Linked DNA regions of Homo sapiens: region 2 is linked to region 1. The links come from fine-mapping of genetic effects on gene expression. A gene starts in region 1. The other region holds a variant in brackets. All regions are shown on one strand. Distances are between the middles of the regions. Region 1 holds the start of TMEM9B-AS1 (TMEM9B antisense RNA 1). Region 2 overlaps SCUBE2 (signal peptide, CUB domain and EGF like domain containing 2).

The links.
Region 2: its variant is fine-mapped to the expression of TMEM9B-AS1 in esophagus muscle (GTEx, PIP 0.96).

The regions. Positions count from the first base shown.
Region 1 is chr11:8,956,231-8,972,086 of GRCh38, forward strand. TMEM9B-AS1 (TMEM9B antisense RNA 1) reads left to right here and starts at 8,445. Exons shown (of 5, transcript NR_073431.1): 1 at 8,445-8,918; 2 at 9,674-9,814; 3 at 10,311-10,426; 4 at 11,609-11,811. It overlaps TMEM9B (TMEM9 domain family member B), which reads right to left and starts at 8,212. Exons shown (of 5, transcript NM_020644.3): 1 at 7,979-8,212; 2 at 5,862-5,953; 3 at 1-68. The coding sequence starts at 8,083. RefSeq lists silencers at 7,676-7,865, 7,906-8,405.
Region 2 is chr11:9,014,556-9,030,411 of GRCh38, forward strand. SCUBE2 (signal peptide, CUB domain and EGF like domain containing 2) reads right to left here. Exons shown (of 23, transcript NM_001367977.2): 19 at 15,329-15,490; 20 at 12,809-13,006; 21 at 11,147-11,299; 22 at 7,321-7,400; 23 at 4,921-6,642. The coding sequence ends at 6,490. The region is part of intron 1 of NRIP3-DT (NRIP3 divergent transcript); the gene reads left to right. Among named protein-coding and RNA genes, the nearest start is that of NRIP3-DT, 18 kb to the left of the region's middle. The variant T/C (reference allele first, on the strand shown) is at 8,329.

The DNA.
Region 1 (15,856 bases):
AGCGTAGACAGTATGCTTCTACATCAGGCCCCCGCACAGGCATGGGCTCCACAACATGAAGGCAATCACTGAAAAAACAAAGATAAAATGCTGCTTAAGCCCAGCTAGCTCTTCTGCTTGCTCTGACCAAAAGTTTCCTGAAATCTAGAATAATCACTAAACTTACCCAATGAAAGAGCATAAAAAACAAATAATCAATAAGATAAAGTAAAATAATTTCTGCTCTCAATATTAGCATTTTGGTAAGTTTTAACCATTTAAGAAGCCACAAAGTCACACATATAGTAGTGTCTATTTTCAAAGCTGCTACTGTTAACAGTTACAAAAACGCACACAAAAAATCCCAAATGGGATGAAAAACTACTTAACAAATCAAGTCACCTTTAGACTTGTTCAGTTACTAAGGAAAACTACTTAAAATGGTTTAAAGTGATATGGGGCACTGTTCAAATATAAGATTATCTCTTTTGTGAATTAACATCATTCTTTTTTGTTGTTGTTTTTTAAGAGACAAGGTCTTGCTCTGTCACATGGGCTGTAGTGGAGTGGTGCCATCATAGCTCACTGCAGCCTCAGACTCCTGGGCTCAAGTGATCCTCCTGCCTCAACCTCCAGAGCAGCTATGATTACAGGAGCCTGCCACCATGCCTGGCTAATTTTTAGATTTGTTGTAGAGATCAGGTCTTGGTTTGTTGACCTAACTTGTCTTGAATACCTGGCCTCAAGTGATCCTCCTATCTTGGCCTCCTAAAGTGCCGGGATTACAGGTGTGAGCCACCGTGCCCAGCCAACATCATTCTTAACTGCCAGTGTGGTGTATGAATGACTAACCACGTTTAACAGCGTGGTAAATTCTGAAACTCTGAAAATTGAACCCTCAAAGCCACACACAGGAAGAAACAATCACTTTTCTTAATGAGCAAATCTGAAAAAGCAAGGAGAAATAGAATAACTAAAATATTTTAAAACAAAAACTGGTTATTCCAAAGAACTAAATAAAAACTAACAAAGGGATGAGTGTTTTTGTTGAATGTTACTTATTTCCCCAACCCCATTTTCAAGGCTAATTATTTATGGTTTGTGTAAACACAGTGCTATCAGATTTTTCCTAGAAATCTGTCAATTCTAAGCAATAACTAAATTATTATTCTCCTCAACTATTAAGAGTCTATGACTCTGATCACCTTCAGCAAAATTAGGGAAAGCTTTCCTGTCCTCCTGCCAGCTGTTGGACAATTTTCTTTCCTTTTGGCATCTCTTCGTTAGGCATTCCTGGCTGCCTCAAGCACTCTACTACACCATCCTATCTTATCTTACCCATTCTCTTGGGGACACCCAATACTCTATAGAGTGATTCCTTCTCTTTCCCCACCAAAATGTACTTTTTGGAAACAAAGTTACAGCTTGGTGGGAGGAATAAGTTCTAGTGTTCTATATCCCTGTAGGATGACTATAGTCAACAATAATATATATTATAGTTTCAAATAGCTAGAAGGAGGATTTTGAATATTTTCAACACAAAGAAATGATAAATGTCTGAGATGCTAAATATTCTGATCAAATCACTATATCTTATATGAATTGAAACATCACTATGTATCCCATAAATACGTACAGTTATTGTGTCAATTAAAAATTAATTTCAGCCGGGCGCAGTGGCTCATGCCTGTAATCCCAGCACTTTGGGAGGCCGAGGCGGGAAGATCACCTGAGGTTGGGAGTTCGAGACCAGCCTGACCAACATGGAGAAACCCCGTCTCTACTAAAAATACAAAAAAATTAGCCAGGCATGGTGGTGCATGCCTGTAATCCCAGCTACTCAGGAGGCTGAGACTTGAGAATCGCTTGAACCTGGGAGGTGGAGGTTACGGTCAGCCGAGATCGTGCCATTGCACTCCAGCCTGGGCAATGACAGCGAAACTCCGTCTCAAAAAAAAAAAAAAAAAAAAAGGCCGGGTGTGGTGGCTCACGCCTGTAATCTCAGCACTTTGGGAGGCCGAGGCGGTTGGATCATGAGGTCAGGAGTTCAAGACCTGCCTGACCAACAGGGTGAAACCCCATTTCTACTAAAAATACAAAAAATTATCTGGGCATGGTGGCACATGCCTGTAATCCCAGCTACTCAGGAGGCTGAGGCAGGAGAATCACTTGAACCTGGGAGGCAGAGGTTGTAGTGAGCCGAGATCGCGCCATTGCACTCAGCCTGGGCAACAGAGTGAGACTCTGTCTCAAAAAAAAAAAAGTTAATTTCTAGAAATTCATATTTTCATGTTCTGTTCCCTCTAAACTGTGGCATTAGAAAAAATAACCAAAACGGTATATGATAGAAGTTGTTAGGTTATTCTTTTTTTTTTTTTTTGAGACAGAGTTTCACTCTTGTTGCCCAGGCTGGAGTGCAATGGTGTGATCTTCCTCAACACAACCTCTTCCTCCAGGGTTCAAGTGATTCTCCTGCCTCAGCCTCCCTAGTAGCTGGGATTACAGGCATGCGCTACCATGCCCGACTAATTTTGTATTTTTAGTAGAGATGGGGTTTTTCCATGTTGGTCAGGCTGGTCTCAAACTCCCAACTTCAGGTGATGTGCCTGCCTCGGCCTCCCAAAGTGCTGGCATTACAGGCATGAGTCACCGCACCCGGCCCAGGTTATTCTTAACAGGTAATTTAATTTTAACAAAGGTAGTAATGAAAAATTAAATTTCCACTGATGGTATTTCAAATACGGGTAAGGCCCCACAACTCTCACCATAAAAGTGTGTGATATCTGTTCCAAATATACAGAAGACCAGGCATGTACCCAACTGGATGCAGGCACAAAATGGGCAGAGGGAACTATATCCCATAACAGGTGTTATCTATCTGAGGATCAGAGAGCTCATCTAGCCTCAGGCTTAGAGAAGGTCACAGAGTAAAATCATATTTGAAAAAGGATCAGGCCACGCATGGTGGCTTATCCCTATAATCCCAGAGTTTTAGGAGGCCAACATGTGAGGATCACTTGAAGCCAACTTGAGACCAGCCTGGGCAACATAGTGAGACCCAGTGTCGACAAAAATAAAAATTAGCCAGGTTGATGGTACACACCTGTAGTCCCAGCTACACAGGAGGCTGAGGCTGGAGGACCACTGGAGCCTAGGAGATCAAGGCTGCAATGAGCTATGATCGTGCCACTGCACTCTAGCAATAAAAAAAACAGAAAGGACCAGAATCCAGGACTCCTGCTTCCTACGTCAGTTCTTTACCTCTGAACCTCGGGAAAATGAAACTGATCTATTTAGTTTCCTACTTCAGCTTCAGAAGCTTTGGCAACAATACCTAAGAATGACTTGGGAATTTTAAGTGCTAAGTAAGTATTGAGTATTTCTTTTGAAGGATATATTTTAATAACAAAAAGATACTTGAGTGCTGTGCAAAAGTTGTGCCCAGCTGGAGAGAAAGCAGGAAGGTTGATTTTGGCTGACCAGTCATTACAAACAGAGCTAGACCTAGTCAGAGGTTAACCACTTAAGGAACTAGGCAACACCTCCCCCTAGTGCCAAAAGTAACACATCATTAGCTTTAAATCACCCCAAACACAAACTAGAGCACTCCAACTACTCTTAAGTTTTAAGTCAGCCAGCATAAGTCAATGAAGACTTAAAGATAAAAACTGGACAAAATGAAAGGCCCAGAAAACAAAAGGTAAAACTATATCTAGGCCCTCACAGATACTGGAGGCCTCGTAAAGCCATAATTCTGGTGAATCATAACTTGCCTGCCCCGTAAAGTCAGTTAAAATTTTTCAGTGCCAGCTGGGAACTTATCCCTAGAAAAATGCTAAGCTGCAGAAAAGAAACAAGGGAGAGTGGGAGAGAGGGAAGAAAAACCCCAAGCAAGCCTTATTCTCAACTGTTTATTTTCTTTGTTTCTGTTTTTTTTTTTTTTTTTTTTTTGAGACAGAGTCATGCTCTGTCACCCAGGTTAGAGGGCAGTGGCACAATCTCAGCTCACTGCAACCTCTACCTCTGCGGCTCAAGCGATTCTCTACCTTAGCCTTCCGAGTAGCTGGAATTACAGGCGTGTGCCACCATGCCCAGCTAATTTTTATATTTTTAGTAGAGTCGGGGTTTCACCATGTTGGCCAGGCTGTTCTTGAACTCCTGGCCTCAAGTGATCCACCTGCCTTGGCCTCCCAAAGTGCTGGGATTACAGGTGTGAGCCACCATGTCCTGCCTCAACTGTTTTCAAAGCCAAAGCTATTTTTACTAATAACCAGGGGTTAATGACATATGGTCCTGTCTGAGTCTGAAATAATGAAAAGTTAGTGAAAAGATTAGTGCTAACCACTTGAATAGTGAGTTCATTTGCTACTCAAAAGACAGGCATTGCATTTCATTACTGATAACAGAATAAACTGTAAGCACTGAATAAATTTGGAAAATTTATAGAAGTAACATAAAGATTTATTTGAACATTCTTTTTTTTTTTTTTTGAGCTAGGGTCTCGCTCTGTCACCCAGGCTGGAGTGCAGTGGCGCGATCTCGGCTCACTGCAAGCTCTGCCTCCCGGGTTCAAGCGATTCTCCTGCCTCGGCCTCCCGAGTGGCTGGGATTACAGGCACCCGCCACCAAGCCCGGCTAATTTTTTTTGTATTTTTAGTAGAGACAGGGTTTCACTCTGTTGGCCAGGCTGGTCTCGAACTCCTGACCTCAGGTGATCCGCCTGCCTCAGCCTCCCAGAGTGCTGGGATTACAGGCGTGAGCCACCGTGCCCGGCCTGAACATTCTTGTATCATATAAAGTAACTTCCTGATATAAAACCTTTAAGAATATGGCCAAATCGCTTGGTTAATATGACACCACTTACAGTGGAACATAGAGGTTCACAAGAAGTTCTCAAGAACACACTTAACAAATATGAGACTGAACCTAAATGCGTATCAGGGAAGAACAGACAGTGGCATCAGAGAAACTAAACATACTCAAAGGCTGCCTTTTCTTTTTTAAAGTCAGGTTGGAATACTGTTAACTGAATGAATTTAATCTTGCTTTCTAACTCTTTGATGGCTATTTAGCTATGAAATCAGATACACGTGAAAGCTCCTACCATTTGGAACTATTTTTCCTAAATTCCTATCCCATCCATCTTCCACCGTGGTTACAAACCATAAAACATCACAATTCTATGGGAAGGAACACATTCATCCTGCTGTAATACAACTGCATCCCAACTGCTTCATGGCACACGTAGAAAAAGCTATTTGTCAGGTCTGCTGGGATAAGCAGAGAAGGCTGCTGGTGGCTAGTCAGTCAGGATCCCCCAGTCATCACAGGCCTGCCTGACTGCCCAAGGACTGAACAGGTCAATATCTTGGCACAACTGTAACTTCTTCATTTACACCAAATGGGAAACTCTGACTACATAGCTCATTTCCACTTCTTCTTGAGCCTTCTGACACTTTTAAACATAGCTTCCCATACTTGGCAATACATCATCAAAACCTACAAGTTGTAAAAATTATAACCCAGACAAACGAGGCTTGCTAACCTTCCACTGAAAAGCAAGAGGGAGAAAGGTCCCTCACCAAAACTTGAGGGAGTACAGCAAGATAGCTATGGGTAGTTTAGGTGCCACAAACCCAGTCATATGCTCCCATGAAACTCTGCCTACATGGGTCTTAGTGTTTTGGCTGTATACCTTTAGGCCTGCAGGCATCATGCACGTAGGGCCTCACTCTCACTTTTTCAAATGGAAGTAGAATTTCACATTTTTGCTTCAAATGAAATACTTAAAAAGAAAACTATGCATTTGATGAACATTCTGGGATAACACTGACAACCACAGAAACAAATGTGACAGGTAATTCAGTAATCCAGATACTTACCAATCTTTCTGAGATATGTTCTTATTATAAATATGCCCAGAATTTTCTTTATAGGGAGGGCAGATACATTTACATCTGACATCCTCGAAATTCTGTAACCAAAATGGAAACAGTATAGTGCGTTGACAGTTTATCATCAATATTTTTAAAAACTGTACCATATACATTTTGCCAAGCATCCTCTTTAGAATACCAAGTATTCTAAAATCATTCATTTAAAACTTTAACAGACACAGTTTTTAAAAGCCACAGTCCTTTATGGTAATGCCAATGAATCATTATATATTACATGTAGTTATTTTGAAATAATACCTAATACATGATCTAAGACTTATTAACCATATTTATGGGTCACATGACAATCAAATTATGTTAATGTTATTACCATCTATCTGCCACTAGAAAGACACATGGTAAGCAGATAGTTGTGCCTGTAAATAAGAATATTCATTACTAAAGGATGGGAAAGAAACTAAAAATTATTCACAAAAAAGGTCACAATTCTACCTATCATCCTTTCACCCTCTGGTAGAAGGCACTGACATTGATAAAACGGGTTGGGCCAGAGTCCCGTAGAAGGGATGAAATGTTAGAGGCACCCACCTACAACTAGAAAGGAAGTACACACAGGAAGTAGCCTGACTCTGAGATCAGTTTAGTATACTCTTCCCAGGAAACTTTGCTTCTAATTCCTGGTTGACAGACAGAACAACTACCAACAAAACAAGTTTCAAGAGGTGGAGGAACAGGTGACTAAGTATCTGGATAGAGAAAAGAAGAGATGCTTCCTCAGCAAAGGGGAATCTGTTTGAGAAGGAAGTGGCTTATCATTCCCCAGAGGACCTTGCCCACTCCTCCTATATACAGTGATATGTCTGGCAGAGCTATTGACAATTCACAAACGTATTCAGCAACCACTTAGTGAGCATTTGCTCTGTGTTAGATCTTGTGCTCAATAAGGTGGATTCAGATAAGCATAAGACATGGTTTCTGCCCATAACCAGGACACACCCTAGTAAAGGAGACTGAAAAATAAATACATGATCACAATACATAAAGTTATGAGGCAAGATATGCAGAGGGTGCCAGCAATGTTTTCAAAGTCAGGAGACGTGCTGCTGTCCCTGTTTCTGGTAGGAGGTAGAGATGGTTTCAAAAAGAATCTCTGAATCAAAAACATTTGCCTGCCTGTAACCTTTCCCCACTCCTACATTTAAAGATATTATAAATTAAAGCTCTTATTTTTAAAAACGCAATGTCATTCTGTTTTCCCATCATACTAATGTGAATCCCTTCTGTTCTCCCCCAATGATGAGCTAGCTCATCAAAGAGGAAGCACAGGTATGCATGGAGCTAGGGCAGGTCTGGAGAGCTGGGGCACCAGAGAACAGTATGAGGGAACTAGAAGGTCAAGAAATCGAACCAGGGAGGCCACAACCTCACCTCTCTTGCAGTTTGGTTCTTCCCTTACCCACTAAATTATCAGGAAGAGAGAAAGCAAGAAAGGCACCAAGGGACTCGTGGAGGGAGTTAGGTGAGAATATGAAGCAGGTGAGAGATGCTCCGTAGGCCCTATTGGGAGGGAAGTAGGCCAGGAGGGGCAAGTTCCCACCACAGGAAGGGAAGTGTTCAGGGGTGAGCTGAGCTGAGTCGGCCCTTGACAGGGAAGGCTCTGTCAGATGGGGGCTTCCTATCATTCTGGCTTGGGGCATGCGGGGCCTGTGAGGCTGGCGGAGGGCGCAGGTGGGCTGTCAAGAGCTTAGGGTGGAAAGTTAAAGGCTCTCGGAGGTGAAAAGGTTGTCAAGTGTAAGATGCGTGCAGCCGGGGCTGGGAAGGGAAATGTTAAGGCGGTGGGGGGCTGCTGTCCGGACTGTGGGCACTGTCGGGGCTGGGGACGACCGTGGGGCGCTGCCTGCCAGGCTGTCGGGGCTGAGGGCGAGAGTGCCGCCGGGCAGTCGGGAGGGGCGGGGCTGGTGGCGGCGGGGGTCTGCCGGAGCTGTGAGGCCAGGCGTATGGCTGTCAGGAATGGGCCAAGGAGCAGGTTGGCAGACCCAGTTTCCGCAAGGCCGGTGGTAGGGGAGGAGCTTCCGTCAGGAGCGAGGCTGGGCGGGACTCACCTTGGCGGCGTCTGACAGCTGCGCCAGCAGCAGCACGGAAAGCGCCAGGCACGACAGGCTGAGCAAGGAGCCAAGCCGAAGAAGGCCTCCCCACAGGGTCGCCATCGCTGGGGGCCCAGCGGTCCCACAGCCCGGAGCCCCCGCGACCGGCTCCCGGCTCGGGCTCAGGCTCAGGCTCAGGCTCAGGCACAGGCTTGGGACCCGGCTGGGGATCCTCCGCCCGCACTTCCGTCTGGACGCGAAGGCGTCACCGGGCGCGCCGGGTCAGATGCAAAAAGCATCCGCCCCGGAACCGGTTACCAGTGCGAAGGGCCGGGAGGCTGGGCAGTCCTGGTGCCCGCCTTGGCCTAGCCCCGGCCCCGGGACGGAAGGGGGCCTCTGGGGTGGCAGCCTGGGCCCAGTAGAGCTTTGCATCTCTTGGATATCTTTCCCGGGCGCAGAAGCTGCGGGGCTTAGGGAGTCGCCATTGCGCTGGAAAGTCCTCCCGCCCACGGAGACCCCAGCAAACTCCGAGTGTCACACAGTCGCCTCTGGCGACCCGTGCGGGCCGGAGCCGTTCGCGCACAGGCAGGGCGGGTGCTGAGCGTGGAAACGGGGCTGGAATTGGCCGAGCCATGCCTTTCCGGGATGCCCACCGCCAGTCAAAGGGTTGGGGGTGGTCTCTGCACCTTAAGTACTAACCTGCCGCCCACGCGCCTCCTGACCACAGCACCCCGTCGGCTTTCTAATTCTGTGAGCTGCCCTCGTGGGCGTGGCCTCCCTGTGGAGCTCCCCATGTGCCTCCCCTTGGTCCAGCCTGCAGCTAGGAAGTGGGTCACAGCGACGGGGCTGGGCTGGGCCAGGCCAGGCTCCGGGAGATGTGGAATTGGCGAAACAACTGCCCCAGTAGTATCCTCCGCCTAGGACTCCAAGAGGTGGCGAATTGGGGCACTACGCCCGGGTAAGGCAGTGCCTGTTCAGGGCTGCCGACCTGTCTCCCCAGGGCTGTCATTCTCAGCAAGTACTTTAGGAGTGCCTTAGATCGGCACATTCTCCCATTGAAATATTTTTGTTAGTGGAGACAAGGGAGGTAATGGCAAGGACACGGATCATCACAGCCCCTAGGGATTTGTTGAATGACCTTTGGCAAATCACTTCCCTTCTCTGGGCCTGTAGTTCTTGGCTGAATATGAGGGAATGGATTTCAAATTATGCTCCATGTAATACCCGTGTTTTTACCTCTGTAAACAGATTTTTTTGTTTTTTTTGAGACGGAGTCTCGTTCTGTCCCCCGGGCTGGAGTGCAGTGGCGCGATCTCGGCTCACTGCAACCTCCGCCTCCCGGGTTGACGCCATTCTCCTGCCTCAGCCTCCCTAGTAGGTGGGACTACAGGCGCCCGCCACCACGCCGCCCGGCTAATTTTTTTTTTCTTTTTCTTTTTCTTTTTTTTTTTTTGTATTTTTAGTACAGACAGGGTCTCACTGTGTTAGCCAGGATGGTCTCGATCTCCTGACCTTGTGATCCGCCCGCCTCGGCCTCCCAAATTGCTGGGATTATAGGCGTGAGCCACCGCGCCCGGCCCCAACAGATTTTTAAAGATGGTCTTTTCCCAATTTGTGGAAATGTTTTAACAGAATGCTCTCAATATTTTTCGCCCATGTGATTCTTAGATTCATGTGAATCTAACACAACGTATCTGATACTGTTCCCAACAGGAACCAGGGTGGCAGGGCTAGATGTCCTCTCACCAGACTGCCCAGTGAAGGTGCTGTCACTTTGATGAATTATCAAGGCTTTGTAGTGGGTCTTCTACTGGACAAAGGACAAACTGGAGACTCCCTGGATCAAATGTGTTGGTGAGGCACTGAATCTGATTGCTGAAAGGTGATTCAGCTGCAAGTTAGGCATCAGTTTAGGGTTTTCTAGGCTTGGCATCTAAAGGGAGTGCCTGCTGTAGCTGAAACCTCATAGGCCTTCTCTTCCTTCCGAATTGTTTTCAAGGCCTTGGGGGTACAGAGACTTAGAGAAAATACATAGTTGTGCCTCAGACTGATGGGCCTCATCTGTTTAATGGAGAAACACCAAGCACACTCAGTCTGGGCGGAATTTTAGAGCTCCATAGTATAACCACTATCTAGCTACATGTGGCAATTGAGCATTTGAAATGTGGCTAGACTGAATTGAAATGTGCTGTATAAAATATACACTTAATTTCAAAGACAATATTTTTAAAATGTAAAATATTTCAGTAATTTAAAAATATGGTTTAAATATTTTAGATATGTTGGGTTAAATAAAATATATTAGTAAAATATTTCACTTGTTTTTTGACCTCTTAAATGTGGCTGCTAGAAAATGTTATAGTGCTGTCAGGAAGTGCTGTTCTGGAATACAGAATGTGGCTGCCGTGAGTGGAGTGTGACTATGAGATAGTCGCCTGACTGGAGACAATGAAGCCTCAGGCCAAGGTAAGAGGGCTGACAAGGAAGAACTGGCACAACTAGAGCCGAATGTTTGGGGGAGGTATATGTCTGCCAAAAAATGAATATAATTTCAGGTGACTCAATAGAAGTGGAGGGATCAGTTTCTCTTGTTCTGCCCTGCTCTTATCTAGGTAACTCTTACTTTTCCTTTAGGTCAGGGTTCTTCTAAGCCAGAAAACCTTCACTGACTTAAGTGCACTCCTTTCTATGTTTGCATAGATCTCTTTCTTAACTTTACCCCATTATAGTAAAATTATGTTTTCACATTTGCCTTTATACCCAAACCTCCACCAAAATATTGTGAGCTCTCTGAGGGTAAGGACTTTGTCTTATTATTGTTATACCTGGAGACAGATTAAAACAATATGATGTTTGTGGGGACCAGGGAAAAGGGGAATGGGAGAGGCTCCTCTGGTTAGTCTAAAAGAAAAGTATCAGGCACCTACTTGAATCCTCATTTGATTTCTTTCTGACCATGAGAGGGGATGCTGAGATGCCCAAAGATGTGCAAATGGCGGGATCCGGCGCACCATAGTAGGCAGGGGAGTGAAGATTTCTCACCTCGGGTCTTCCTAGACCTTCAGGTCACACGGGAATTGTTCTGTTTATAGACGGCGCTGGCCTTAGTACTCACTCTCCCTCTATTTTCCTTGCTTCCTTATAACTAGGTTTCCCTACTCACTTCCTCAAAAAGAGTGATGTAGGTCCACGTGTACCCTCCCAACTGGCCTGGGTCCTCTCCCTTCTTTGTAAGGCCTGAAAAATTCCCTGGTGGGGGATGGTTAGAAAAGGAAGAGGAACCTTCTTTGTAAGTGTGCAAGTCAGAAGGGGAGGGAGAAAAGTGACAATTTATATATCTGGGACAAATATATCTTGGACCCAGGTTTTGCCACCTGTCTGCATCCCCCCATGCCCTTTCCCCTCCAGTGATCAAATAGCTCTCTGGATGCCCCTTAATTCTTCCACCCCATCCATTCTGATCTACCCAGCACTTGCCTAGGCAACACCAGTCCAGGAGAACAAATGGAGTTATGCACAACATTGGTGATTTCCTTGTATTGTGGCTCCAGTGGTTATGGCTGGGGACACACACATCCTTCCAGTTATTTCTGAGCATACTCTGGAAACGTCTTATGAGCCCTCTTCTTTATTGTGTGCACCCACTAGGATGCTCCCTCCTACTCAGCCCTGTTTAGTGGGATTTTTCAGCCCACTGTAAAGCCTACTGCTGCCTGTAAAGCCACCTAAGTGCATCACTTGCTGGTGTTCACCATGATAACAACAATTTATGGGGACAGAATATGTTTCTAGAGCTGCTGGTGCCACTGCTGATGTTACTGGGTTCCCTGAAATAAAACACCACAGTGCAGGTGAGTACCAAAGTGGGGAGAATTTTTAGTTCCTTTTAGAGGTGCTAAATCAATATTGTTGATTTCCCAGTACCTTAGAATATTTAATGAAAACAGGTCAGGTGCAGTGGCTCACGCCTGTAATCCCAGCACTTTGGGAGGCCAAGGCAGGTAGATCACTTGAGGTCAGGAGTTCAAGAACAGCCTGGCCAACATGGTGAAACCCCATCTCTACTAAAAATACAAAAATTAGCAGGGCGTGGTGGCAGGCACCTGTAATCCCAGCTACTCCGGAAGCTGAGGCACCAGAATCGCTTGAACTCAGGAGGCGGAGGTTGTAGTGAGTCGAGATCATGCCACTGCACTCCAGCCTGGGCGCATGGTGGCTCATGCCTATAATCCCAGCACTTTGGGAGGCTGAGGCAGTCAGATCACTTGAGGTCAGGAGTTCAAGAACAGCCTGACCAACATGGTGAAACCCCATCTCTACTAAAAATAGAAAAAGTTAGCCAGGCGTGGTGGCAGGCGCCTGTAATCCCAGCTACTCAGGAGGCTGAGGCATAAGAATCCTTGAACCCAGGAGGCGGAGGTTGCAGTGAGCTGAGATTGCACCATTGCACTCCAGCCTGGGCAACAATAGCGAAACTCCGTCTCAAAACAAACAAACAAACAAAACAAAAAAACTTAATGAATACAGTCCCTCCTAAGATTTTCAAATAAATGAAATACCACATTAATCATATTGTTTTATTTTTATCATTACATTAAAAATCAAATAGTATCACTAGGTTTATAATGAAAAACAGCAGACCCTGTCCCAGCCCTCCACACTCTCAGTTTCTACTCCCTAGATATAATCTCTATTCACCCAGCTACCTCTTCTGGTATTTATCTCCGTATTTCTAAATAGCATGCTTATACTACTAATTCTTAATTTTTCAGTTTGGGCCATTATTTTACTTTTTCTATAGGAAATAAGATATGTGTTTATACTCTGAAGACTGGTAATACACACATGTATTTCTCCATCTTCCATCCTTCAGTTTATCTATATCACCCTATATAGGTAGAGTACTATTCATTATACTATTATAAAGGTATGTAATTGATCCAGTTAGCATAATATGATTATATTTCCTTTATTTTGATTGAAGTTAACTATTGCCTCTTTCTCCATGCAACTTTCTTAAGTACCTAGCATTCAAGTGTCTATAATCAATTTATTCCAAACTGTCCTTTCAAAACATTGAAACACATCAAGTAGTCTATCAATCAGTTTATTTTTTAAATTGGAGACAACTCTCTAGGAGCCCATCATCCTCCTTCACTGTGGACTAGTTTTTCTCTAAGCCTACTGCACAGCTTTTGTCCTGAAATAATTTTATCCTTTCTACCCTGTTTTCCACTTCTTTTTGTTTTTCTGAAAGATTTCCACCTTCCAGCTTTTCTTTTGAATTTTAAAATTTCTGTTATGTTTTAAATTTGCCAGAATACTTTCTTGTCAACCTCTCTTTTAATTAAAAATATTTTTTATTTTTGTAATTTAAAGGTTTATTGTAAATTGACAAGTACAAATTGGATATATTTATGGGGTACAAAGTGATGTTATATGTATACAATGTGGAAAGATTAAATCAAGCTAATTAACATATCCATCACTACAAATACTTCTTTGTGGTGAGAATACTTGACATTTACCTTCAGCAATTTTGAAATATACAGTACATTATTATTAACCATGCTATACTCTTTATCTCAAAAAATGTATTCCCTTTATCTAACTGAAACTTCGTACTCTAACCAACATCTCCTTGTTTCCCCTACCACCCCTTCCCCCTACTCTCTGATAACCATCATTCTACTCTGATTCTGTGAGTTTGTTTTAGATTCTACATTAGGAATCATGTGACTTTGTCTGTCTGTGCCTGGCTTATTCCATTCAGCATAACGTCCTCCAGGGAAGCACTTTCTTGTCCACCCCCTTCCCCTTTTTAAATAGCAGTCTGTTCCATTTGGTGGATGCAGTATCTTATTACTCTAAGAATATTGCTAATGTTTTCTTTTGTTTCTTGAATTGTCTGTGTTGAATTTTTAAGGCTTGTTTCTGTTTTGTGTTGGAAGCTTTTCTTAAACGTCTAGAGATCCTTGGCCATCCATTCATATGTAAGAGTGGGGCACTAGAAAGCCAATAGAAAGTTCTGTGTACACTGGCCAGTGAGGTGGCTCACACCTGTAACCCCAGCACTTTGGAAGGCCAAGGCAGGCAGATCACTTGAGGTCAGGAGTTCAAGACCAGCCTTGCCAACATGGTGAAACCCCATCTCTACTAAAAATACAAAAATTAGCCGGGCTGGTGGCGCACGCCTGTAATCCTTGCTACTTGGGAGGCTGAGGCTTGAGAATCTCTTGAACCCGGGAGGCAGAGGTTGCAGTGAGCTCTCCAGCCTAGGCAACAGACCAAAACTCTGTCTCAAAAAAAAAAAAAGTTCTGTGTACATACTTAGGACTTGTAATTGGTAGGACATACTGCAGTATTTTTCAAACTTCTGGTCGCAAACCCATTAGTAGTTTGTGAAATCAATATAATCAGTTTTATTTCCCCCAAATGACAGAACAGAATAGAAAACACCACCTCAGAATACATCTACATAGAAAGAGAATTATTTTATGAAACTTTGGTTTCTTACACATATCATATATACATATTATGTACTGGTTTGATCCCATAAAATGGGAGTTTTTTTTTTTTATTGTGGGTGTTTCTTCAAAGAAATTTGAAAAAGTACAACTTAGGATAATCAAAGAGATCTCCAACTGTCAGGACAGGTAGGTCTTTTCTCTTAGAGAGGTTAAGTTCCGGCCCAGTGCGGTGGCTCATGCCTGTAATCCCAGCACTTTGGGAGGCTGAGGCGGGCAGATCATGAGGTCGGGAGATTGAGACCATCCTGGCTAACATGGTGAAACCTCATCTCTTCTAAGAATACAAAAAATAAGTCAGGCATGGTGGCACGCGCCTGTAATCCCAGCTACTCGGGAGGCTGAGGCAGGAGAATCATTTGAACTCGGGAGGCGGAGATTGCCACTGCACTCCAGCCTGGGCGACAGAGCAAGACTCCGTCTCAAAAAAAAAAAAAAAAAAACGGAGATAAGTTCTCCTGGAGTAAAATTCTCTAAACTTTTGCCTGCATGCTAGTCTGATAGACAGTACTCATTCATTCAGGTATTGGTTGAGGACTTACTATGTGCCAAACACTGTTCCAGGTTCTGGGTATACATCAGACAAAACTGTCTCCTGGGACTAGATTCTAGTGAGGGAGATAAACAGTGGGTTATATAGTATTTAGATCTTGCGCTAGGTAACACAGCAACAGAAGGGAAAGCTGAACATATGCATATAGATGCTGGTAAGAGGGTGGATGTGGTGGATGAATGAAGTAGAAAACAAGGTCATCATCTGAGAGTGAAAATGGGGAGGAAGTGTTGGAAGAAAAGAGAAGGTGTGAAATAATTTAGGACACAGCACAGCAAACTATAGCCTTTGGTCAAATCCTATTTTGGTGCAATCCACAAGCTAAGGATACTTTTTTACTTTTAAACGGTTGGGAAAAAAATTTAAGATGATATTACATCATAGCATGTAACAAATAAATGCAATTCAAATTTCATTTATTTACATATTGCCTCTGGCTACTTTCATGCTACAGTGACAAAGCTGAATAATTGCAAAAGAGACTATGACCTGCTATGCCAAAAATATTTATCTGGCCCTTTACAGAAAAAGTTGGCTGACTCCTGATCTAGGAGGATGGGAAGGTATATAGAGTAGGGAAATATGATTATCAGGCAGCATTAAGGCCTGAAGGTTATGGACATGAATTTAAAGTAAGACTAAACAGCATAGTTGCTGCACAGAAGTAGGTACAAAGGCAAAGAGCTGGCTTTAAAGTTGTGATTTTGCAAACTGAAAATGACAAAAAGGGGTAGACTAAGTTAAAAGTACATGCAAGTTGCATGATTATAATGAGTGATCCTGGGATTTAAGTTGATTATGACAGGAACAGAAGGA
Region 2 (15,856 bases), 58 kb after region 1:
AATTCTCCTGCCTCAGCCTCTCGAGTAGCTGGGATTACAGGCATGCGCCACTACCGCCCGGCTAATTTTTGTATTTCTAGTAGATACAGGGTTTCACCATGTTGGCCAGCCTGGTCTTGAACTCCTGACCTCAAATGATCCACCCGCCTTGACATCCCAAAGTGCTGGGACTACAGGCATGAGCCACCGTGCCTGGCCCTATCAAACCTCTTATACTTGGCACCTGCATTACTTAAAACTCCAGTTTAGGTACCTGATGTGGCTGCTAAAAGCTGACTTCTTCAAGCCAAGTCACCTGGAAGTAACATTGGGGTTCCAATGTGCTACACTGTCCACAGTTTTATAGCATGATCAGGCATCACACACACACCGCTGCATTGACAGTGTGTGCTGATGACCAATTTGTGGTCACACAGGATAGGTTACCCACAAGGCTGCAGAGGGCCGCACTTAGCAGGCTTGGCCAGGGTTCACCACAAGCTCACACTCTGTACCTCCATGCTGTTCTGCTGTGCATGCTGCTTCAGACATTACTGGGCTCTGTCTTCTCTGGGGCATTGGTTCCAATTCCTGCTTAGCAGCTGTTAATTTTTTTCAACTGCCACACATGTAATAAGGCAAAGCCAGCACCGAAGCTCAAATTTGAGGTAGGCTTGTATTTCTACTTTTTGCGTTTTGTAGGGAAAAGACAGAAAACTTCAACCTGTGGCCCAAAATTATCCTTCAGTCCTAGGATACTGTGTAGGATCAGAGAACAATCCAAGGCAGGGGAGTGTGGTAGGGAGCTCCTGGAACTACAAAGTGGTAAAACATGCAAGATTATAATTGAGGAGTAGATTTTGTCCTCATCATTCCTTCAACTCCTTTTCCCTTCTGACTCAGGACTATATATCCAGCCTACCCTGGTGCCTAGACCGTAACAGTGAATGCATGAATATGCGGTGTTTGTATGTGAGATTCAGAGCGTTGTTGATAGTTTGAAATGACCTAGATCAATGAGTTTGGACTTGGTCACTAGTTTTTCTCTGCCAAGCAGAGAAAAAAGGAAAATATCTAAACAAAATAAACTCCGAGGGCTGTGTCAAACAACATGCGACCAATCAGTTGTCAAATCACAGCCCTAGTCCCCAGGGCCCCTTGGGTAAGATCTTGTCTTGAATTATGGGCATGTAAGGTCTGAGGCAGTGGGACGGGAGACAGAAACACAGGTCGACTCCATATTGCAACCACTAGGTGGCACCTGTTCGAGGAACTGCCAAATGGCTTGTTCACAGCTTGAAGCTTTGGTCAGCTTGGCTTGACATGAAATGCCAAGGTCTTGCTGGGCGGATAAAGGAGCTTGCCAGGGCCAGTGCTGCCAGGCTTGGTTTGAGGAGCCAGTGCTCTAGGAGGGGCCTGGATTCATGACTCTAATGATGAGCTCATCCTAAGACAGCAGCTCCCTCCCACCACCTCCTCATTCTCTGTCCTTTAGCCCTTCCTTATTTATACCACTCATCACTACTTGACTTTACAGTATATGTTCATTTGTTTATTGTCTGTCTCCCCAGACTGGAACCTAAATTCCACAAGAGCAGGGAGCTTCTTTTGCTCCCTGCAGTATCCCTGGCTCCTACAATGTCTAGCACTTAATAGGCTCTCCATAAATATATGTTGCATAAATGAATGAATGACCAAAAACATAATAAGAAATTATTAGTAACTAAGGTCTGTAGTTGCATCCCCTTTATGAGATACTCTGAAAACCAAGCACTACTGAGTTACTGTCATTGCTTGCAGTAGGTAGGTTTAATTTGTATCGCTTTTATTCAACTAAGGCAAACTGCCTATATTAGAGTGGTTTCATTTTCTAAATCTATTTTGATGCCACTGTGTTCTCTGGAAAGTGCTCCCTGCTGAGTAGTGATATCTTCATGGCTATATCACTGACATGGATCACAGGAGCAGCCTTGCTGTGTTAACAGGTCCCTAAGGGTGGTCTCCTGCAGGCTGATCGAGACTGCCTGAAGGGAGAAGGAGGCAGGGCACTACAAATATTAGGACACCTCTGAGCTGGGCTCACAAGCCCCTGGAATGGAAGATGGTCACAGAAATGAAGCCTCACCAAGGCCTCTAAGTTTCTGTGGATGGGCCCCTACTGGCCACTCCCAGGACCTTAAATTGTAGGCAGCTGATGGCTTGCCTAGCTAGAGGGCCGTATGCAACAAGATTCCCTCAACTTGGTGAGGAACTGCTTTACTCCAGCCTCAGCTAGTCCATTTGCCTCCCAAATGCTGGCTAGAAGTAGTGCAGACTTGAGTAAGGCTCCAAGACGTATCCTGCTGTGTGAAAAGAAGCAGAGATGCTGACAGTAAGAGGCATCTCTTCAGGGCTAAGAAGATTACAGCTGGGCCTGGAATGACCCCTGGGTTTTCCAGCACATAGGCCCACCAGCTGTGGTGGTCAGCTGCAGGCAACAGCTCCGGTGCATCTTCCTGCAAAGATCTGCCGGAGGGTAAGCAAGTCCTTGCACTGTGCTGTGCAGCCACTGCCTTTTCCAGGTTGCCACATGACATTTTAATATCACCTGCAAACCTAAATCCAGTGAGTGCCTACAGACGACACACTTAACAGCTCAGGGCATGATTCAGAGGAAGCAATTTTCCAAAGTGAAGATAATTGTCTGTTAGTGTGAAAAGGCAAACACTTTTTTATTAGCATTGGAAATTCAAGGGAGATGTTGTTAAATCCATAGATGCAGCACTTCAGTAAATGGCTAAAGAACAATATCTACAGCTAGAAGGAAGGACTGTACAGATCCATGCCCATTCAGGGTTCACCCATAGAACTAGCTCTCTTGGAGGGAAGATGGAAGCTCAGCTCTGACCTCTTCCTGTTTACTTAATACGCAGCTCCTCAAAGTCCTGGTTCCTGTGCCCACACAGGAAATCCCAGAATTAAGAGTTCCCCGGTCTTCTTTTATTTACATGTTTCCCAGGTGACCTTAACCGGGGTAAAGTCTCATGCCTTTACTCTGTGACATTAAAACTTATATTCCAGCCCTGACCTCTCCTGGGGCTTTGTATAACCATTTGCCTATTTGAACCCTCCAGTTGGACATATGATAGGCACCTAGAACCTAGAATGGCCAAAATGGAACTCTTAACCATCTCCCCTTTTCACTGTTATATTACTGCATAAGAAGTCACCTCAAAACCTATCAATCATTTAAGATAATAATCATTAATTTTGCACACAAATCTCTAATTTTTCTGTGGTTCAATGAGGACTGCTCCATGAAGTGTCAGCTGGAGCAGCTGGAGAATCCCTTTCCAAGATGGCTTACTCACGCAGCTGGCAAGTTTTGCTGGCTGTCGCCTGGAAGCTCAGCCTGGCCGGTGGGTGGAGGGACTGTGGTTCCTCTCCACATGGCCTCTCCACAGGCTGTTATGGCTTGCTTCCTCATGACGTGGTGACTGAGTTTCAAGTGTGAGTGTCCTAAGGAGAGGAAGTGGAAGCTGCTAGTGTCTTAAGCCCTGGGCCTCGTAAAGCATTACTTCTGCCATGTTAATATTGGTCAAGCAGTCACAGAGCCCAGAGTCAAGGGGAGGTGACACAGACCCCAACTGTCCATGGAAGGAACCTCAAAGAATTTGCAAACATGTTTTAAAACTGCTGCATATCCCGAACCTGCTCCTCCTAGTCTCCTCCATCTACCAGTTTCTTAGGCAACTAGGAGTCATCTTTGACTTCCTTCTTTCCCTCAGCACTTCCATACAATCCCCATCAGCAAATTCTGTTGACTGTCCCCCAAAACACATCCAGAATCCTTCTACTTCTCTCATCTCCACTACAACACCCTAATCCAGACAATACCTTCATCTGCCAACTGGATGGCTGCTTGTTCTGTTGCAGTAGTCTGTGAATAACTCTCTCTGCCTCCGTGCTGGCTTCCTATTCACACAGTAGCCACAGCTACCCTTTTAAAACATAAATCAGATTATCTCACTCCTCTGCTTAAATCCATTCAAAAGTTTGCAACATATTTAGAAATAACTCAAACCCCTCATTATAGATTCCAAAGCCCGATGTGATCTGGCCGTGTCTGGTTCTCTAGCCTCATCTTGTACGACCTGCCTTCTCACTAGACTACAATATACACAAATGGTTGCTCCTGCCTGACAGCCTTTGCACTTGGTTTTCCTCTCTCTGGAAAGCTCTTCCCCCTAATTTTCCCAAGACTGGTTTCTTCTTGCCATTTAGTTTTCAATTGAAATGTAATTTCCGCATAGAGGCCATCTATAATCCCCAATCCTAAAGTAGCCACACAATCATCTGTTACAGTAACCTATTTTAATTTTCAACATAGCTCTTACCACTAGCTGCTACTTTTCATGTTGATTTATCTGTTCTTTGTCTGTCTCTTCCCTCTAAAATGTAAGCTTCATGAGGGCAGGGACCTTGTCTGTCTTATCGCCGCATCCCCAGGGCCTAGAGTACCAGGCAGAAGTTTGATAAATATTGATGTAGCAGGTAGAAATAGTATCTCCAGATAGCCAGCCCCCAACAGGATCACAGCATCTCTTAAGGTAGTTGAGGGAATAGAGAGGAAGCTCCTCTTTATACCTCCTGTGCGTCAGTGGTTTGTGCGTGTACCAGCAACACAGCTCTGGTGCATGGGGCTGCCCCGTGGAGGATGCTCCTCCATAGTGACCGGGTTTATGCAGCCTCCTTCCAACCCCCAGAGTATTCCCATCCCTAGCCTTCTTGTGAAATCAGCAAGACAGGATCACACAGTCATGAGCACAAAGTTGCTAACATGCCTGGACAGAATGGTGCAGCTCAGCTCATCTCACCTTCACATCAGTGCGGTCACTAACTCGGGTTTATGTGACATTCGAATTTTCATCTTATGGTTAGACTCAGAAATATAGGCCAAGCTCCAGTATAACAAAGTCCAAGTGCTTGTTTTAATGCTATTTTTTTTTTAATGATGATGTTCAAACTTTTGAAGAGAAATCTGAAAATGAATATTTAGGGCCCATCCAAATAAAGAAGTTTGATTAGGACTTTTTAAGAATCAATGTTATTAACAGGTTAAAAAAAGCAACACTGAGATGAAAAGCAAGTTTAACCATAATGAAGTTCTCTTTGTTTTCTTCAAAAATGCTTGTTAAACATTTTTTTAGTACTTTGGTATGGAGAATTGGCTGTGCATAGAATTGTTATTGAAATAACAAAACACTATAGTTGTAGGTAGTCCATCCATTAGGGAAGTGGTGGCTTGTTTGATTGGATTCCTTTTTATTCACTGTAATGAGATTTTTGCTTGGGGATTTAAATGTTTAAAGATTCAATAACACTGAAAATTCAAGTTCAAGAAATGATCGTGAGGCCCTGCTGGCCTGACCCAAAGTGAGATGATCGTGTGGCATTCAGGGGGTGTTTCTGGCAGTGCTGTTACTGTTAGAGAATGAGACCACCCTTCAAGGGGCTGCTCATGTCCACGGAGCAGAGTCCGTCTCTCACATTTGAGACTGGGGAAGGAAGGCATACATGACAGGCTGGGCCTCACCACACCCACCTGGACCTCAGATCCCTTGTGATGGGAAGCCCACTTGGGGAGTAGAACCCTTGGCAATACCGACTCAGGGTTGGTGAAATCGCCTTTTCATGACAATTGATGATTCTCATCCACTGAGGAAATTACATTTCACCTGAACTCCCCAGTCCCTCAGGCAATGGCCAGCAGAGTGTCAGAGGGCACAGCTGAAGGTGCGAGAGTCAGCATAGTGCATTTGCTGCAGGGTGGAAGCTTGCAACGAGGAAGGCTGGCAATAAATGTACATTATTATGTCTCCAGAAGTGCTTAGTTTTTATTTATTTCTAATTCTTTCTGCTTTTTTTTTTCACGAGCACTGCTTAGAACTCAAGTTCCTGGGATCAAACTTGTATCACACAGGCTGGAGAAGGCTGTGGAGAAACTGAGTCCTCCCAGGTCTCAAGGTGGGTGGAGGGAGCCTGCAGGGGTCTCCTTCCCTCCCCTCTTGCCTGTTCTGCCTGGTCAGAGCCTGCACACGAGTGCAGAGGGCTCCCTTAGAGAGGGCCGGGCTAGAGGAAGCTGAAGTTTCAGAATAAGCAGCTTATTCTGTGGCCTCCTTTCCACTACAGACTCCTTGAGGAGGAGTAAGACCCCAGAAGGACAGGTGAGTCTCACCTAGGCTGACCAAAGTCCAGCTCAGCCAGCCCGTGATCTATCCAAGACATCCGCCCACAGCAGTGAGAAGCTGATGCCACTCAAAGCCATTCTCAGTCTACATCCACGATGCTGGGAAAGAAAAACCAAGTTCAATTTACCAAAATATCTGTATTATCTATAAAAATTGAACTCTAATGAGTCACTGATACGGGAGGCAGCAATACCCGACTGTGCTGACATGCAGAAGGAAGACAGCTCTGTCCCACCAACCCTATAGCAGAACATTTGTATTGAGTGGCACGTGGGCTGAGTCATTTGTAAGGTCTCAAAAACCTGGACACTTTGGAACGTAGCAATCGGATGAACGATCTTGGAAACATCTCTCGGGACTCCTGGGCTGTGTACTTGAAATAGTTCTGGGGATGGGCCAGGACATCAAACAGAGCCTTGATAAGTTTCTTATCCTAAAAAGAACAGAATTTTTGTTACTGGGCCAAAATATTTAAATATGCTGACATTTTGCCCATGGAACTATAATGACCCAGTATTAGGCCGTAGCTTGCTTAGCTGAAAAACACTTGCAAAAATTGTTTCCTCTGATTTTTATCTTCTTTCCAGTTTTTATTTTTCCTAATTAGTTTTAAGAAGTATGAATTACTTTTATAAATAAAACTTTAATATGTAAAATCCTGTTTTCTTTTTCCCAACCAGATGAATGCAACACTGGGATTTGGGAGTATTTGTAGGATTAGTGATACCACAAGTGTTTATTGCTAATTATTTATAAGTATTTAAACTTTGGTGAATTTTAGGCTTGAAGTATACATAAAGAGCCAAGGATCCTCAACTATTTGGAATTAATAGAAAAACATTATTTGCTGTTGGTTTGGATTTATAAGCAAATTTCTCCCTGCCCCTCCACAAGTTTCCAAATTGAAAAATACAACTTCACTTGACAACACTAAAGACAGCAACCTGATTTTTTTAAAAATTAAGTCTGGTGAAGGTATAAAACTGACCTTGGCCCAGGACAGGCTCCGTGTCTGAAAGGTGGCAACAAGGAGCAGGAGGAGAAGCCTTCTCCAACAGTACTCGGGAAGCTCTGTGGATAACTGCCATGTCCACCTGAGCCAGGCACTCACCTTAAGTATTTCCTGATGGTTCTCAGATGCATAGAGCCTGCCATCTCGAACTATGTCTTCAATGAGTTCCTGGTAGTCCTCTGTTGGAATAAAGAACATGTTTTGCATTCTTATGATTTAGTTGCTTCCAAACTCACTCTTTCACTTTTTGATAAGGTTCTGAGAAATGCCCCTTCTGTGGCTGCTATCACTTACCATTCTGCTTACTGAGAAGACAGTCAGAAGAAAACTTCCACAGACTCCCACCACCACCTCTCTTCACCTACCAGCATCTGCACCCATCTTCCCCGTCCCCTCTTCCCTCAGACGAGCCTCTGTGCATCCAGTCCAGGCTCATCCCTCCACTTAGCATGCCAGGTCCATCTTCTCTCCCCAAATCAAAAGCATTGTTCTAGTAATTCTGCTCTTTCTTTCCTACATGATACATTTTTCTCTCTATTCGTCTCTCCCACCAGCATGCAAAAATGCTGTATGTCTCTGACTTTAAAAATCCCTCCCTTGACCTCATTTCTCCCTCCAGCTTCCATCTCACTTACCTGCTCCCTTTTGCAGCAAAAATCCTTAAAAAAATTGTCAGCACCCACTGTCTCTAATTCTTTTCCTTTCTTTCTCTCTTAAACCCAGTCCAATCAGCTTTGGCCCCCATCACTCCTCCAAAACTGCTTGGTGAGACCAGCAATGACCTTCATGTTGTTAAATCCCAACGGCCAGTTCTTGGTCTTCATCCTCCTTGATGCATCAGTAGCTTTTGACCTGGCTGGTCACTCCTCCTCCTTGATCCAGTTCTTCACTGAGCTTCCAGGACACCATGCTCTTTGGTTTTCCTCCTACCTTACCGGTTACTTCTCTGAGGCTTCTTTGCTTTTCTTCTTCTCTCTGACCTATTACCAAAGGAGGGTCCCAGGGCTTAGTCCTTGGTCTTCTCTTCTCTGTCTATACTCACTTCCTGTTGAGCTCATCAGGCTCTCCTTTCCCTCTCACCTCCCCACCTCCCGCTTTTTTCTCTAT[T/C]CTTGTATTATGTAAAACAATCAAGCTTCTTATCCACCAAGAAAGACTCTTCTCTCCTTTATTTGAATGGGGCTGGAGGGTGGAGAATTTGGCTGGTCGGGGAGGAAGAAAACTGTGTGTGTTCTCTCATTAATATTTTTTGTCCTGATATACACATTAAATGCAGTGCATGCTGTACTTCTCCAAATGCCAATCTTCCCCCTTTGAAGTCTAGCTTACTTCCTATAGGCATCATTCAAATTAAGCATATGCAAAGCACAATCTTTTCCAAATTCCAGACACAGAAAAAATGCCTCTTTGTATGCATATCATGTGCGACAAAGCCAAACACATTATGAGAACATCATTGAAATTGTGTGAGAGGAACTCTTGAAAAGTTTCTCTCAGTTAAGGGATGGCAAATGGAAAGTAATGGTATAATAGTCACAATTACTAATTCGATATGTTTACAATAGCATTGGTACTCCATTAGTGTGGTGTCTTTCTTTTATTTTAGTGAATATAAAATATGAGAATACATTTTCTTTTCATCTTGAATTCCTCTGCGGCAGTATCTCTCCTCTTTTTGTTGATGGGACTTACCATTAAGAATGTCGGTTGCTGTGCTGCGTTCTGGTGTAATAGAAAACTAGACAGCTGTTTGCCACTCCACCAAATGCTTCCCGACTGCTATCGTTTAAAAAAAATATTTCTTCTGCTTTTAAGAACTACTGTGTTTCCTTACTTGCTCCAACTCATTAGAAACGCAGGAAAGTTACAGGTAAGAATCCAGGCTCTGGAGTCCCACAGTCCTGGTTCAAACCTTGCTTTGCAACCTTGCCATGCTGGGACCTTAGGTCAGTTCCTTAAATCTCTAAGCCTGAATGGCCTCATCTATAAAATCAGGAAATAATCAAGTCTACTTTATGGAGTGATTGTGAGGAAAGCACCATGTAAAAGTCACTTCAGCATGTACCTGGCAGTCAGCAATGCTCAATGTGTGTTAGCCCCAGCTACAGTTCTCACCGTTGTCCAGCGCTCAGAGGGCCCGTCTGTAGCAGCCTCATGTGCACCTTCTAAATGTGATTTCTATCCTTCTGGGTTTGAAAAGAAGATATCAAACTTTTTGGAAATATATGTTTGAAAAAAAAAAAACTCTGAGTGAAGGCCTTGGGAGCTTCTCTGTGGGGAAAATAGCAGTTTCCAACTATTCTCTACTGTGACACATGCAAGACTCACTCTCGTGGGCATACACTGCATTATGCGTAATTTTCCCCAGTTGGAGCTACAACTCTTTTTCATTTTAAAAAAAATCAAGACATTTTCATGTGTCACAAAGGCAGAGTTGAGAACAGCCATATTTATTTTGAAGTCTCAGTGTCTTTTTGCTTTCTTCCTGATTCCAGATAGGAGAGGTTGCCAGTTGGTTGCTTTTGGGTAGATGAGGCTCTCTGTCTCTCTCAGCAGAGCCATGTGGGAGGCATTTGGGTCCACCCCAAGAGATACTAAAACTCCTTGTCTTGGGTGTTTGTTTGACATTATTTCAGGCATCTGTAGGACAAAGATGATGATCCGTGCTTTTGTTACTTTTTAGGAAAGCCATAGAATATTGTCTTCCCAAACAATTTTGGCACTTGTCATCCTAAAATCCTTCAGTGGCTTCCTCTAAGATTAAGTCTATCCTCCAGAGCTTGGCCCTGAAGGCTCTTCACAGCTGAACCCCATTCCCTTCTAGTCTCCTCTCTCACTGCCAAGCCCCACACACCCAACCCACTGACCAAATAAGACCATTCGTCAGTCCACACGTACACCGGGGTACTTCATCCTTTGACTTATGTCCTTCCCTCTTTCTGAATGTCCTTCTCCCCCATTTATGCTCAAAATGTATATGTTATTTCAAGACCCACATCTCTCAAGACTTTGCTCTATTCCTTCTAAAAGCTCATGTAAAATTAACTGCTGCTGCTGCTTCCATGCTCACATAGGGCTTTGGGCTGTTATAGCAGCTATAACAATATATATATTTTGTGTTTCTGTCACTAACCATGTTGTTTCCAGCACTTAGGCCAATGCCTGACATAGTAGATGCTCATTAAATATTTGTTGGCTAGGTGAACAAATAAGCTCAGGAAGAAACAAATGACTCCTCTCCTACAGGACTGTGTAGTCCTCCAGGACAAAGATCCAGTTCATTTTATGCTCCTAGTCAATGTTTTCCAACCAAGTCTCAGAGCTAGGTAGAGCCCCAGGGCTCAGATGGGCCACCTCTTCATCTAACATGAAGAAAATTAAAACAGAAGTCATCTGACTTGCCCAAGATCCCACAGTGAGTCAGTGAAAAAGCCAGGACCAGAACTAAGGTCCTTCCCTGCCTCAGGATTCTACCTAATAAAAGCCACAATCATCAGAAGTTAATATTTACTGAACAATTGCTATGTGCCAGGCACTGCCTCACGTCCTTTAGGAACTCTCACTGAACTCTTAAATAAGTCTAATGATTATCCTCATTCGCACATTAAGAACTTGAGGCTTAGAGATGGTGGCATACACAGTCACAGAGAAATCATAGCCAGGCTAATCAGTCTGACTCCAGTGCCCATGTTCTTACTCACCAAGCTATGCTCACTTTTAATATATTTTATAAAACATCTTTTCCTCCTATTGTCAGTGTCCCCAAATGCCTGTTAAAATTTGGCACTTGTGAGTCAGCAATGTCTTTTCCCCTCATCTTGCCTGCCTTTCTGAGCATGTGTGCTTGTCAGCAGTTTGCCAGCTGGCTCCGAAGTTGGCTCTGTTCAAAGCAGAGACGCTCTTTCCATGTGCTGCAGGCTGTGCTTACCATCATATGTCACGTATGGGACCTGGAACCCTCTAGCGCTGTTCCCTTCATTGGACTTGAACTGAATCCACAGCTTCTTTGACCTGGAGGTGAAGGCGATGGGGCGTTCGTAGGTCTGGCAGGTTTCATATGTTGTCACAGAATTGGATGAAGCTGCCAAGGGAAGTTGGAGAAGGGTGGGGTTCAAGACTCATCACTGATCAGGCATAGAGTAGATGCTCATCTTTCTAAACACTCAAACCATACAATAAGTTATGCTCAAAAGCTCTTCAGGCCCAGCTGAGCCATCATAAGTCAAAGGTCCTGGAAACAGAGTAGATTCAGCTGGTAATTGTGGACCCCCAGGGGAGGCTACACCTGAAAGACCTGGGGCTTGGCAAGCAGCAGCAGCCCAGGCTGTACCGTTCACTGTAGGAGCTGGGTGAGGGCCTCCCATTCCAGAACTGACCTGCTGTCATCTAATTGTCATCACCACCATTTGCTGCCTAAGATCAGGCAGCATGCTAGGCAATTTATGGACTTTGTCTCATTTAATCTTCTGAAAACCACAGAAAGTTGGTGCAACCGTTACCTTTTTAATAGAGAGATTAAATACTTGCCCAGGGTCATATAGCCAGTATGTGGTAAAACAAGGATTTAAACCTATACTTGACTTCAGACATTTTAACCACTAATAAGAAGAGCAAACGTTTATATAGTGGCTCCATGTGTCATCATCATTCTTTGTTTGTTTGTTTGTTTGTTTGTTTGTTTGTTTTTTGAGACAAGGTCTGGCTCTGTCTACCAGGCTGGAGTGCAGTGGCATGATCACGGCTCACTGCATCCTCCACCTCCCAGGCTTAAGCGATTCACCCATCTCAGCCTCCCGAGTAGCCGGAACCACAGGCATGCACCATCATGCCCAGCTAATTAAAAAAAAAAAAATGTATAGAGACAGGGTCTCACCGAGCCTGGTCACAAAATCCTGGTTCAGCCTCCTCCCTCAGCCTGGGATTACAGGTGTGAGCCACTGTGCCTGGCCTATTCTAAGTGTTTCACATCTATGAACTCCTTTAGCCCTTATAACCTTATAAGGTAGCAACTGTTACTAGCCCCATTTTAACAGATGAGAAGACAAGTGCAGAAAGATTCAGAATGTGTGCCCGAGATCATAGAACTAGTAAGAGGTGGAACTGGGACAGAGATCCAGGCAGTCTGGCTGCAGAGAGCCCCTCATTACACTGCCCATAAGCTGTGTTGACAGCAGTCTTCCTTTATGGACACTGGACCATGAATCAGGATAGGAGGACAGGTCCCCACCTGGCCAGGCTCGGTCAGTCTCCAAGCCATCAGTTGCAACTCAGTATGAGGCCTTGTCTGGGGCCAACACTGCATGATCCTCACTGGCTCTCTGGGTCCTTGTGGAAGAGGGTCCAAAACGCCCCAGTGAGCACAGAGGGGAAGACTGACCTGCAGGATCACTACCTCTGGGGCCCAGCAAGACGCTTCAGTGTGTGGCTTTCATTTAAATTTTGTTTCTCACCAACTCTATAAACTCATGTTCACCTCTGCTCTAATATGGAGGTGACGTTCTAGGCCTGCCTCCTCACATTGAAAGCCTGAGGAGCAGGTCATCAGGCTTCCCAGCTGGCCTGAGAAAGGGAGGGAGGGAGTGAGACGCACAGGTTTTCCGCATCACCAGATAGTCCCCACAGTCGTCCTCTATGGGCAGGAAGATCTCAGGGACCACGATCAGGATGCGGCGCTTGGGGGGTGGGTTGATGGTCCACGTACACTCGGTGTTGGCTGGGTAATTGCCTGGGTAGTTTGGGGATTCAATGTACCCAGTGAAATCTCCCAGCTCCCCTCCACATCTTCTGTCTGAAAAAGGAGATGCCCCGAGTTATGGCACGACACTGTCATCTCTGTCCTGACCACCGCTAGCTTGCCGAGCCCCGCAGCACCCCTGTTGCCACCCAGGAATGGGGCATGAAAATGACACCATCTGGGAATGAGTCTGTCCTTCCCAGAGGGCCCCCTGTGGGAGCCAAACCATTAGCTCCCCACAAGGAGTCTACCCCTCTGAGTTCCTGAGGCACTGTTTTCTCATTAGCCCGAAAGTGTTCACGGTCAGGGCAGGTAATTGTGAACAAAAGGATAAATTTAGCTTTCAGTATTTTGTTTACCAAGTCCAAGTGCCAGAAGAACCCATGAGACAGAACTTCTAGGTCTCTCAAAATAGGGGGAACAGAGCTCATTGCTCTGCAGAGACTATCTGACCCTTTTTCAGAGAACTTTGATGAAGACAGACATATATTTTTCACTTTTCTCTCTGGTTAAGACCACATTTTATTTTTTATTCATCTTTTAAAAAAATTATTATTATTTTGAGATGAGGTCTCTCTCTGTTGCCCAGGCTGGAGTGCAGTGGTGCGATCATGGCTCACTGCGCCCTTCACCTCCTGGGCTCAAGCCTCCCAAGAAGCTGGGACCATATGCAAGTGCCATCAGGCCTGGCTAATTTTTTTTCCTCATTTTTTTTTGTGGAGACAAGGTCTATGCTGCCCAGGCTGGTCTGGAACTCAGGCTCAAGCTATCCCGGCCTTGTCCTCCCAAAGTGCTAGGACTACAGGCATGAGCCACTGCACCCAACCCACATTTTATTTTTAAGGAAGGAAGAAAATTCTAATTAGCTATCAGTAGGTACAGGGCATGCTGGATACCTACGTCTGGCACCAAAGACAGAGGCTGCACACATGTGCACATGCTTGCACAGACCCCTCCTTCACCCACAGCACCCAGCTGCATCTTCATTCATCCCAGAAGTGTCACCCAAAGCTCTGAGAGCTCAGAAATGAGAAAGACACAGTCTTTGCTCTCAAGGAGCTCATTATTTAATACTGTCAGGTAAATCTGTGCAAGAGAAGATGTTGAAGGGATTACTTTTTCCCTCTCTAGTTACAACTGGGATTTATTATTACTAGAAAAAAAATAAATAGGCTTTTCTTCTTGGAAGAAAAGAGGAGGAAGGGGGAGCCATGGGGCGGAGAATTGCCTTCAGTCCTGAAGGGCTGCCCTAGGAACTGTGCCATAAGGCTCCCATGGGGCCAACCAAGGGCCAGGTGGTGGAATACAAGGGAACATTCATCTTGTTCTAACACTGTGAGCTTTCTAAAGTCCAATCCACCAACAAGCTAGGATATCATGAGGTAGCAAGCTTCCTGTCACAGCAGGTATTCAAGAAGAGACTAGATGGAAGGCTACTTATAAAGATGTTGTTAAAAGGACTTCCTTGCAATAGAGAGAAAACCAGATGATCTTTCAATCATAAAGTTCTAATGATGTACTGCCCCCCTCAGTCCCAAGCTCCTCCAGTTTAGGGGGGGCCTCCTTGCTCCTCTGACTGCTATCTTAAAGATTAGCTGGGATTTACTTTTGGCCTTTACTACAGAGTTTTTGTTGTAATTTTGGTTATAAATAGTGGCTTTAAAAAAAAAGCCTAGACAGCAAGTCCTTAAATGATTTGCTTCCCCCTTCCTATAAAACACAAACCGGTCTCCTCAGCATCCATCCGAGGCTTTGCCTCCTGGTCTGCCTGAGACTCCCTTCGGCACATTCTAGCCTGAGGTCCAGGGGTCTCCTCCCAAAAGGCCTTTGCTTGCCTCGATCTGTGCTTCCCCCAGCTGCTCTCTCAAACATAAGGCTCTTTCTCCTACTCTTTCCCCACCCTCTCCATCAAAACCTTCTCACACCCTCCAGAAGCCTTTCCTCATCTCTCGAGACAGAGTCAATCGCTCCTTCCTCTGCAGCCTCACTGCCTGAGCTCCTTGCAGGTTCAGCGATGCCGACTCATTCTGCCTAATATCAACCAAGTCCCAGCAGAATGCTGGGCACGTAACAGGTCCTCAAGCAATGCATGCTGATCAAGGCTGGACTAAAATTATGCCCCAGGGAGGAAATTAAGGCAAGTACAGCTTGTAAGTGTGCCTGAGGAAGTAGCCAGGATCAATAAAGATGAGTCGCTCTGCACAGTCAGGCCCTGCTCTCTCTCCATGCTGGTCTGCATGGCTGTGAGCTGGGCTCATAACATCTACATGGTTCTGAGTGAACCTGGGACCTCTGCCCCGTGCCCCCTGCTCTGAGGTGGACCCAGACACCTATCTTCTTAGCCAGAACTATGAAAAGCCTTAGAGAGGGACCTACTTTTACACTGGGTTATGTTTGTGGAGCCATCAAAGTCAGTCGTAGTATTTCCTGGGCAAGAAACACAATTATTTTTTCCAAATTCAGGCTGGTATGTTCCCACTGGGCAACGAATACATCGGTGAGTGGTGGTGTTGTAGAAATGTCCAGGTGAACATTGAACTGTGGGTCAAGGGAGGGTGAAAAGAATGAAAAAAAGAAAGATTATTTTTAATCAAATGCAGCACAAAGATTTTAAAGTTTGTGAAAGAAATGTTTATGTGCAAATGAAGTAGGGCTTTCCTACCAATCTGGGGCTAATCAACACTTAATTCCCTAAATAGGCAGTGTGGATGGGGCTCATGAAATAGAGAAATATAGAGGAACAAGATATGTGTGTATCTCCAAAGAGTTTATGGTTCATGCAGAGTCAGGCATCAATGATCACAACTCCAGTCTTCATGCAGAGCACGTCTGTGAGTATAGGGGGCAGGCAGTTGCAGAACTGAGGTTGGGTTTAGAGTTGGGCTCCCTGGGAAAAGGCAGCTG